Homo sapiens: one gene and its partners. The protein of the gene in region 3 purifies or fractionates together with the protein of the main gene of each other region. This does not show direct contact. Each region holds a gene or a part of one and is shown on either strand. Other genes may lie near its edges. The genes, in order: PDIA5, LEPR and SERPINI2.

Evidence for each region.
Region 1: the proteins of SERPINI2 (region 3) and PDIA5 purify together in Homo sapiens (affinity purification with mass spectrometry; one large-scale study listed by BioGRID and IntAct). This does not show direct contact.
Region 2: the proteins of SERPINI2 (region 3) and LEPR purify together in Homo sapiens (affinity purification with mass spectrometry; one large-scale study listed by BioGRID and IntAct). This does not show direct contact.

What each region holds. Positions count from the first base shown.
Region 1 is NC_000003.12:123,139,937-123,143,591, reverse strand, and holds part of PDIA5 (protein disulfide-isomerase A5 precursor), read right to left. Parts: intron 1-3,655.
Region 2 is NC_000001.11:65,602,022-65,605,676, reverse strand, and holds part of LEPR (leptin receptor isoform 1 precursor), read right to left. Parts: intron 640-3,655; coding exon 440-639; intron 1-439. UniProt on the Homo sapiens protein: Receptor for hormone LEP/leptin. On ligand binding, mediates LEP central and peripheral effects through the activation of different signaling pathways such as JAK2/STAT3 and MAPK cascade/FOS.
Region 3 is NC_000003.12:167,467,444-167,471,098, forward strand, and holds part of SERPINI2 (serpin I2 precursor), read right to left. Parts: exon of another isoform or gene 3,622-3,655; intron 2,244-3,621; exon of another isoform or gene 2,128-2,243; intron 1-2,127.

The DNA of each region.
Region 1 (3,655 bases), about 44 Mb from region 3:
CATGGTCTTTGGTCCAGAGGGGAATAGAGTGGCACACATGATGCCTTCAAGGGATGAACCAGAGGAAGAGCACTCCACCTGCCCTGGCAGCCCCAGGGGAGCCGGCAGCTGCTTGTAGCCCTATTACATATTGTACCCACACTACACACTCATCATGCTGGGCTCTAGGTACCAGACAGTGCCTCTCTTTTTTTTTTTTTTTTTTGAGATGGAGTCTCGCTCTGTCACCCAGGCTGGAGTACAGTGGCACACGATGTCAGCTCACTGCAACCTCCGCCTCCTGGGTTCAAGTGATTCCCCTGCCTCAGCCTCCCGAGTAGCTGGGACTACAGGCATGTGCCACCACGCCCAGCTAATTTTTTGTATTTTTAGTAGAGATGGGGTTTCACTGTGTTAGCCAGGATGGTCTCGATCTCCTGACCTGTGATCCACCCACCTTGGCCTCCCAAAGTGCTGAGATTACAGGTGTGAGCCACCATGCCCAGCCCCAGATGGTGACTCTCTAAAGGTGGGACCTGAGGTTTTTTTTTACCTTGTACCTCCCCATGAAGCAAAAGGATCACCATTTAATAGATACATGATAAATATTTACTGGTCAGCAATGAAGAGACCTAATTAAATAATTAGTAGACAACTCCTGGGTTGACCAGGGGCTTGAGAAGACCTCCTGGAGGTGGCAGATGAAAGGACACATGTGGGCAAGTTAGAGACAGAGGACAGAGGACCCAGTCAGGAGGGCAGGGGCAGCCTCAGAGAAATGAGGACGTCCCCATGCTCAATTCAGCAGTGCAGAATTCCGCTGCCAGGGCTGAGCAAGGCACATAGCCCCAAAAGTGCTCCTAAGGGCTCCTCTGGGACTGCTGAGCTCGGCCCCCCCAGAGGCTGCCCCTGGGCTGGGCAAGACAGCCTGGCTGTTCCTGGCCTTGTTCTCCACAGCAGATATTCTTAATGTCCCCTGCAGTCAGACATTGTGGAGATCATGATCAAAGTGGTAAACCCTTCTTCCAGAAAAATGCACATAGGGTTAGATGACTTTGGGAGTTCACGGTCTGACTAGACCCCACTTGGGATCCCCCCATCATAAGCTGTAGAGGTATCAAGGTCATCATTATTTTGAATGACAAGAATATCACTTTCCAGAAATGAACATTTAGCATCATCATGAGCCATGTGTTACCTAAATAATCCAGTCACAAAAGGGTTGTTTTGGTAAGTTGGCTGTTTGTTTTCCCCTCAGAAACAATTTTACACACCGATTACATGCAGATTCCCAGGGGCAACCGCAAAAGCCCATTTAATAGGATGCACCTGAAACATAAAAGCACGCAGTGCTATTTGTATTTCCCTGAGCCTGCTCCCAATGGGACAAGTGCAGCCCGCGATCCAGTGGGGACAGCAGGCAGGCCGCTCCCTCTAGGCAGCGACCCCCACCTCAGCAGTGAGAGGAAGAACTCCAAGAGGGACCAGGGAGAGCTGGGGCAGGAGTCTGTGCCTCCCAGGCACTGACATTCTTGAGATTGTCACAAAAGCCTCTCCTCCCCTTCCCCACACTGATGCATATACTCCACATGTATGTACAATTCCAGAGGGATCCTGGACTACCTGAACTTGCTCACAGAACTGGGGTTAGGAGCCCAGGACAAAGGAGACCACCGGACTCCAAGCCAATCACTGTCCAATGGGAGGCAAAGCGGAAGAACACGGAGAGCTGATGCACAGGGGCCCAGGCTTAGATGTCTTTCCACACTGGCCCACATGTCAGGAGTAAATGGAATAATCTGCAGAAGGTTCTACTGACTTAATATGAGGTATATTAAGATTAAAAAATTATTTTTTTGCTTCTCACTAAAATAGAGTGGAGTAAACCATCCTTTGGGGCCACGGTCAGGATGAAAAAGTTCTACAGCTCTTAAAGGGATCTCCCTGCCCCGGGGGCAACCCCAAGCTGCTGCTCCCTGCACCTGTCCAAGGTGAGCCCCCCACTCTCCTGCTTTCAGGCTGACCTCCCCTGACTGGGGCAGAGTGAGGGGGCTCACCCTGCATGAACAAACTGCAGGAGAAGGAAGCTCAGAGACTCTCCTGTGGCGGTGAGTCTATCGCCCGAGAGTTCAACCTGCTCTGGAGAGATGTGAGTGGTCCATGCAAAGTCCCCAAAGGTCCACTGCCCTGAGACAGACTGACTCAGCCCAGCAGCACATAGTGGAGGACACACTGGGAGGCCTCGGGAAATGCAGGCATGAGGCCCTGGGTGGCCTCCAGGGAGGTGGGAGAGGCAGGAAAGAGAGGCTCCCTTGACCACTCTCCCCATACCCTCCATGATATGGATGGTGCTGTTAGGCCAGCTGCTGGCAGGGCCCATGGTCAAGATGGACAGTGGGACTGGAGTAGGAATCAGGGGAGGGAAGACAAAGAAAAGCCAGCCATTGCCATTCACTGAGAATCACTGTTGCTTTCTAAAGTGACCCTGTTGATGTGGCAGGACTCCTGAAGATGAGAATTCACTGTGTGCTGGTAGGGAGGTTTACTTCATCCCTTTATCAGGCTCCAGGCCTTTGATGCCACTGCCCTGCCAGGGTGGCAAGTGGGTTTCATTCCACCTGCCAGCTTCCATCAGCGGTGGGCCTGAGACAGAGGCTGAGTCTGAGAACTCGCTCACTGGGAAGAGGAGCTGTGACCAACTTGCAACGTCTGCCACAGGCATGGGAAGCCAGCTGGGGTCAATACCAGGAGACCTCCAGTTTCCGCAGCTCGCACACATGGCTGTCTCCTGGGCTTTGGCCTCAGCTCCCAGAATTCCCCACCTCTATAAGGAAAGCACTCGCTGTCTGTGCTGGGCTTCCACACTCTATCGCAGCAGCCCCACCAGACACATGACACAGCTCAGTAGGTCCGTTTTACAGTGCCAGAAATTGTAGCTCTGGAAGACGAAGTGACAAATCCCCCAGGGCCATCACCACCTGCCACCTCTTCCTCCCAGCCCCTGCTCTGATGGATAGGCAACATCCACCCTGGACAACCCCTCGCAATCCTACCTTTGTTCTGGCCCCTGCTTTGAGTCTTCCCAGTTCACTGTAGCCCCATCGAATGATCTGTCTCTCTTCTAATTACAAAATACTTCTTATTCAGATATTTCTATGGCATTTAATTTTGTGTTGCTTTGTGACTGTGATATTGCTGTCTTCTGATATTTAAGGGCAGCCGGGGTATATTTTCAAAACATCAATCAGATCAGATCCCTTTGCTTAAAACTTTACAGTGGCTTCCTATCACAGGTAGATTCAAATCCAAACTTATTATGGCTACAGACCCCACACAAGCTGAGTCCTGCCTACCTTCAACCTCAACTCAGGTCACTTCTACTGCAGCCTCTGGCTCTCCTCTTCTCCCAACACACCAAGTTCATTTCTACCCCAGGGCCCTGGAACATGTTCTTTCCTACCCACCTGGAGCATACATACCAACATCTTCCCCCAGGTCTGTATGCGGCTTACCCCTCTTTACATCAGCCACTCAGGCTTCCACTCAAATTTCACCTTCTAGGAGACCCTCCCTGACCACCTATCCCAAAGGCGCCTCATGCTATCATGCCCTCTCCCAATATCCTGTTTTATTTTCTCAATTGTACTCAAAGCAGCTGGAGTAATCTGCTCACTTG
Region 2 (3,655 bases), on a different chromosome or scaffold from region 3:
CTTCTGTGCCCTACATAGCCTCACAAATTAAAGGCTTGAGTTATGAGTACTCAGATTATTGAGAACCTCAGAATATTCAAATTAAACGTTTGGATTACAAATATTACATGTTTTCATAACTACATTGGAACAAAAACATAAAATAATGCCTTATTTAGAAAAACACTACTAAAATTCATTCATAATGACCCATGTATTTCATCTAATAGTGTGCAGAAAATATTCCTATTGCTAAAAAAAGTCTGCTATAAATAATTTGAAATGAATTCAAAACTGTAAAACTTCCTAAGGCTGATTTTCTCAATACCACTGTAAACAGGAACAATTTTTTTTTCAAAATCTAATGTGATCAGAAAATGGCAAAATATAACATTAAATCTGCATCAATCTGCATACAAATCTGCTAACACAAATGAAGACACAACGCAGCTTGACATACCCACAGAATCAGGAAGGACACATGTTGGTGGAGAGTCAAGTGAACCTAGAGAGTGATTGATCCTAATCCACATTGTGTAGCCAGATAATAGGAAGATTGGCTGGAAAATGCATTCATAAAAACCATCACTCTGCAAATAGCAATCTTTGGGCTCAGATATGGGATGAATAGATGGAATATCAGAACAGTAAAGGCTGCTCCTTTAAAAGATACAAAAATAGTCAATTAGTATACATTAATAAAAGCAACAAGAAGATATCTGAGAATTCTGATTTGTTGTTTAAAACAGCAGTCCCCAACCTTTTTGGCACCAGGGACCGGTTTCATGGAAGACAATTTTTCCACTAATGGGGGATGGGAGATGGTTCAGGATTTCGGGATGAAACTGTTCCACTTCAGATCACCAGGCATTAGATTCTCATGAGGAGCGCATGCCCAGTTCACAATAGGGTTCTGCTCCTCTAAGAATCTAATGCTGCGCTGATCTGACAGGAGGTGGAGCGCAGGTGGTAATGCTGCTCTCTCACCTCCCGCTTTGTGGCCGGGTTCCTAAGAGGCCACAGACAGGTACCGGTCCGTGGCCCAGGGACTGGGGACCCCAAGTTTAAAAGACAGGCAGAAGGCCCGGTGCGGTGGCTCATGCCTGTAATCCCAGCACTTTGGGAGGCTGAGGCGGGCTGATCACTTGAGCCCAGGAGTTCCAGACCAGCCTGGGCAACATGGGGAAACCCTGTCTCTACAAATGCACATCTGTAGTCCTGGCTACTAGGGAGGCTGAGGCAGGAGAATCGCTTGAACTGGGGAGGCGGAGGTTGCAGTGAACGGAGATGGTACCACTGCACTGCAGCCTGGGCGACAGAGGGAGACTGTCTCAAAAACAAAATAAAATTAAATTAAATTAAATTAAAATAAATAAAATACAGACAATTTCACTCCATCTAAAAAAAGACATTCTTATTAGAAAGGCATTTTTTAATTTTTCCCAATTCTATATCTTTCCACAGAAACTGACAGTAACTCTTATTAAATATTTCATTAGACACTAAGCAGGGATGCAAATGAAATAAATACTCTAAAAAGAAGAAAATGATCCAGTTAGAGACAGAACCTACAATAATTTGAAAATTAAACAAACATTATGTATTAGTGATAGAATATTTAAAATATAGATGAAAGTAGTCATGGAGCATTCCTGAGATGGCAAGGAAGGCAAATTCCTCACACTTTGAAGAAAGAATTAAATTTCACCACAAATGAGTGGTGAATATAATTTTCTAGTTCAAATTAATATAAGTTAATATAATACCAATTTCAGATATGTATGTGAATTATATAACCATGTATATTCCTCATTTTCTCAGAAAAGAAAATTTAAAAAAAATTTTATAAGTGAGTCCTAGCCAACACTCCACCTCAGAACCCATAAAGCAGGGGTGTCCAATCTTTTGGCTTCCCTAGGCCACACTGGAAGAAGAACTGTCTTGGGCCACACATAAAATATACTAACGATAGCTGATGAATCAAAAAAAAAAAAAAAAACCAGTTGCAAAAAAAATCTCCTAATGTTTTCAGACAGTTTATAAATTTGTGTTGGGCTGCATTCAAAGCTATCCTAGTCCACATGGGGGCCCCAGGCCATGGGTTGGACAAACTTGACATAAAGTCTTTTTCCTCTTCTTTGAAATAACCTCTTGGGCCAATGTTTGCTCTGAATACTATATTTAAATAGCTGAAGTAGCAATTACTCTTTCCAAAGAGATGGGAGTGAGGAAGTTAGAAGAAGCTAAAAAATCTATATTCTTCTGTCATTTTCTATTTTCTATACCACTTCTTTTTCTTGTCTTCTCAAAATTACAATCATGAATGTGTGTGTGTGTGTGTGTGTGAATAAATGGTGGTGCGTGGGCAAAAATGAAAATGAGGAGTGAGGGGTCATCTGGGGGTAGAAAATAAGAACAAAGTAGAAGCACAGTACTAGTACACTTGAAATCGAAAAGTTGGCATCATTATCATGACAGCAAAAACCATATATTGAATATTTACAAGGAGAAATTATACCATGTGATTATAATTAGATGAAATATGTCATTAACTCTCGCAGAAACACTGTAAGTCCTATTATTCTCTCTGTTTTACAGACAAGGAAATTGAGGCTTAGGGAAGTTAAGAAACTCACCCAAGTAAATGTAGTTTCATAGTTATTCTGTAAATGTTAATAAGAGAAACAAGGCATGGGGCTTAACATAATAGTTTTCCATAAACACCTTTTCTAATGTGAAAATGCCATGAAAAGAATGTAAAGACAGATTATAAAAGTAAAATTTCATATCATGAACAATTCTACTGATTTTAAAATACTCATATTAGGTAGGATGAAGGCAGCTATTTGAGAAATGTACGAATTGCCACATTTTTTTCCTAACGCTACATAAGAAGAGACTGGCAGCATTAGGAATAGACTTCAGATCACAGTATTTGAGAGAAGGGATTTATTTTTCTAGTTGAAAATTTATATTTTAAGAATAAATGAGCATGTTATACAAATTGAAAGTCTCCACTACAAATAAAAATATAAATTGGGACACAGTGTTTAACAGCAGTATATATTTACTTGACTACTACTATGGGATATTTTTAAAAATAAAAATCTATTATATAATCAAGGGTTGTATCATTTTAGATAAAATGATTTTAGAAAGAAAGGGACCACTATAAGACGATGCCTTGAATTCTTTTTAAAACATAGAAGAGTAAAAATAAACAAGCACAAATTACTTCTCATTAGAACACATTACCCTTTATTAACCATAAGTATTTATTTCCTAAGTAATCTCACTCAGTTCTAAAAACCATTCATATTATCTCTTATAATCTGTTTTTACCTCTTTTTTCCAAAACATTAATCTTTAGCCAAATGATACGAAACTTTTATAATCTTTCACATTCTCCTCTAGTCAACTAAGTCAAATTAAAATATATATAAACTACATTTTCTTGCATTTCATTCAAGAGTTAAAATACAAATTTTTCAGAATTGATTGATTTTCAGAAAAGATAATTTGAAGTAAAAACAAATTACAATTTTTTAATCTCAGGTGTGAATATTTTTCAAGAATCACCAATTTATATAATCCCTCAAAAATTTCCTGATTCATTATATTATACTTTCCTCTTTCAGGAAGCAAATAATCTGTAAGACTACTGTTGTAATATTTC
Region 3 (3,655 bases):
TATCTCCTGTAGAATATGCATTTTGTAGAGAAATCATCTTTTATATAGAAAAAAGAATGTCCATGCAAATTTGAAATTTGTCAAAAAAAAGAATATGCATTTATAGAAGCTGAAGGAAAGTCCCTCTTGATAGTCACATTTAGCGCATTTTTAGTTATTGAAATTTATGTTTAGAATCTTATTTGCATAACGTGAGCATGTGATACCTATGAAAAGGGAATGCTAATGAATGCTGATGGGGGCATGACAGTGATGAGCAATCCTTTTCAATATTACTTTTATTTCAGCTGAAGAAAAAATTGTTCTCTTATAAGCAACTGCACCTGTACAGGTTTTAAATTTTACAAGGCAACCTCTGTAATCATCTCTAGAGATGCGTAAGAATCAGAATTGCCTATTTCTACAAGTTCATGAATTTATATACTTTGGCTGTCGACATCAACAATAAAAATCTTTAACCATTTTAACTCTAACCACTAGCCAAAATAAGTCAGTCAGGGTCAACTAAAAGAATCACTTTCGGCCTATTATTTATTTTTGGACTGTTCTGACTGTAGTGTTGTCTGGAAGCTATATATGCGTATGAGAGAACTCTACCCTGATATTAGGTTCAATAGCTTCCTGTTCATTGCAAAAGTGTACCAACAGTTTTCATTTCCTTCTGGCTTAATCTTAGAACTCAATCATTAAGTCTTGTAACTCTATTTCAAATAGGTTCTTTCTGGGCCTTCATTATATTTTCAGTTAAATACTGCAAATGCCACTTTCATAACCTAAAATTGATATATTCAATTAATCTTTATTCAAGAAAACCGGGTATTACTAAGAGGGACTTACTACTAGATTTCTACTGGAAATAAGGAGGATGTGTGTGTGTGTGTACCTAAGCTTGTGTAAATACATTTTTTTTTTTAAATCAGAAAGCTAGCAGCCCATAGGTCATCTTTGTGCAAATAAAAATAGTTCCCTCTCTGGGGGCTGGGCAGCTCCATGGCCTCTCATCTTGTCCAGCTGGGTTACAGAGGCTACATTTCAGTCCCTACTTGCCTTTTTGGCCTGGCGTTCTCACAGCCTCACAGGAGGCTCTATGAAGTATACTGCATTATATTTCAAACTCCAGGATTCTCTGTTCACTGGTATATAGATACAGGTATAAACAATTTCAGATATAAAAAAAACTTACTTCCATATGATTAGATCTGAAGAATTTCAGTAATTCTTTATAACCCTGAAATTCCTTACATAAGGAAGGGAAGAAAGTTAAGCCATTTTACTTATTTGTACAATGATTTCAGATGTAACCATTTATTGCTATCTGAAGCCTGAAACAAATATCTCAATAGCTGGGAGGCTACAGAAAAGGCTTTCTGAGTAAAGACACGAGAGCTTTTCCAAAAGAATTAATTAAGGTCAGAAATGAAGTGACAGAATCTGAAACTAATTTTCAGAAATCTGAAATACATGAACATCTTTAAAGGAATAAAAAAAGAGAGAAAGGGAGAAAAAGTAGTTCCAAATCATTTGTCAAAGCAAATAGATTTATGTCATGTACTTAAGGTCTAAGTCTATGTGACAAACAGCTGCCCTTTGATAAACTGTTGAACTCAGAAGTCAATGAAAAAAATGTCACTAAGTAGTACAAGTTTGGAGAAGAATATAACATTATCTGCCCTATAAATTTTATTTCGTTTCTAGATTAATGACATTTTTAGCACAGATCAAAAATTATATATCTCCTAATAAGTAATGACAACAAGTTTATTTCATTTTCTAAAATAGAGCCATGGATAACCCACAGGTCATGGGTGAATGTGGCTCTTGATTTGATTGTACCAGACCTCCAGAAAATGTTCTAAAATTCAGTGCATGTTCTCTTCTGCTAGTAAAAGTCTAAAAGCCAATTTTGTGTGCATATGGGAGATCCAAAGATGAAAACAAACGTAGTCGTAGAATTATAGATTATTTCAGCCAAAAGGTCCAAATAAATTACCTAACCTCAACTTTTCTTTTTACAGTGAGGAATCTGAGGCCCAGAGAGATTAAGAAGCTTCACAAGTGACATGACTTGTGCCAAATCACAAGGTCATTTAGTTGCAGAACTGGGACAGGAATTCATGCCCAGTTCTCTTTTCAAAACCCTGTGGAAAAAAGAAGCACATTGAATTTAGCCTTTGATTCGTCATCAGCATTATCAGAGGTAAAGCAAAAGGGAGTATTAACAGATGTTCAGCAAAATGGAGGAGGTAAATTCAGAGCAGATGTTTTGACAATGAAGTAAAGAAGGAGAACTGAGGACACTGAGAGCCTTACATAATATATGAGAATTAATATTCTTATTAATATATTAGTGAGAATATATTGCTCTTATATTCTTAATCCTCACTGAATTATTTTAGGAATTAGCACTGAGCAAATTATTTAACCTTTCTTTGCCTCAGTTTTCTCAGGTTTATTACAAGGTTGTTTACTTAACAAAGTAATTATAAATATTAAATGAGAGAATATATATTAAGCACATGAAACAGTGGCTGATATCCTTTCTATATTTTTGATAGTGCGTTATTACTATTACTTTATCATGTTCACAATTCACACCTGTTAAAACTTCTGTGTTTCTCTATATCATGTATCCATTTAAAGTAATTTAAGTTTTCAGAGACTCTAATTTATGTATCTTCACAAATATTGTATTACTTTTTCAAAGCTATAGCATGTGGTTTAAACGTTTCTGGGAGTGGTATATTGGGATTTGCTGAAATTAATCAAGACTAAATCTGGAATACATTGGCTTCAGTGTGCACTATTTGCAAAGAAAAATTCTTACAATTAACTTCACTTCACTATTACCAACGTCTTTTCTGTATAAAATTGTCTTTATTTAAAATGAAGCAAATAAAATCTTGTAAATAGTATTTTCAGGAAAGCAAATTTCTAAATACTGCTACTCTGTGATAAGAAAAATACACTGAAATTATAGTTGTAGCAACTAAATTCCCAAATCAAAAATCTGTATTTAGAACACAGTATCTCAGAGTAATCCAAAAGCTGAAAATTAAAACAACTATAGAAACTGAGAGCATGAGATAGCTGAGGAGATGAGCAACAACTTTTTTTTTTTTTTTTTTTTTTTTTTTTTGGAGAAGGAGTCTGTTCTTTTGCCCTGGCTGGAGTGCAGTGGCACGATCTCAGCTCACTGCAACCTCTGCCTCTTGGGTTCAAGCACTTCTCCTGCCTTAGCCTCTCAAGTAGCTGAGACTATAGGCACATGCCACCATGCCTTGCAAATTTTTGTATTTTTCCAGCCTGGTCTCGAACTCCTGACCTCAAGTGATCCACCTGCCTCAGCCTCCCAAAGTGCTGAGATTACATGTGTGAGCCACCACACCAGCCAAGCAACAATTCTTTCAAATGGGATGCCAGCACAAAAGCACAGTATCCCAGTAAGAGGGATAGACACTATCCCAGACAGTCCATGAGGAGACTCCAACAAAACAATCATCATTCACAAGCACAAAGGCCTCTGATTATTTAAATCCTTTTTTTTCCATTTTCCTTTTAAAACTAGTAACAAATAAGCTTTTAAAATGAACAAATTAATGTTTTTTCTTGGTCTCGTTACAGATGAGGTGCATTTTTTTTAAGAGAAATGTTGGAA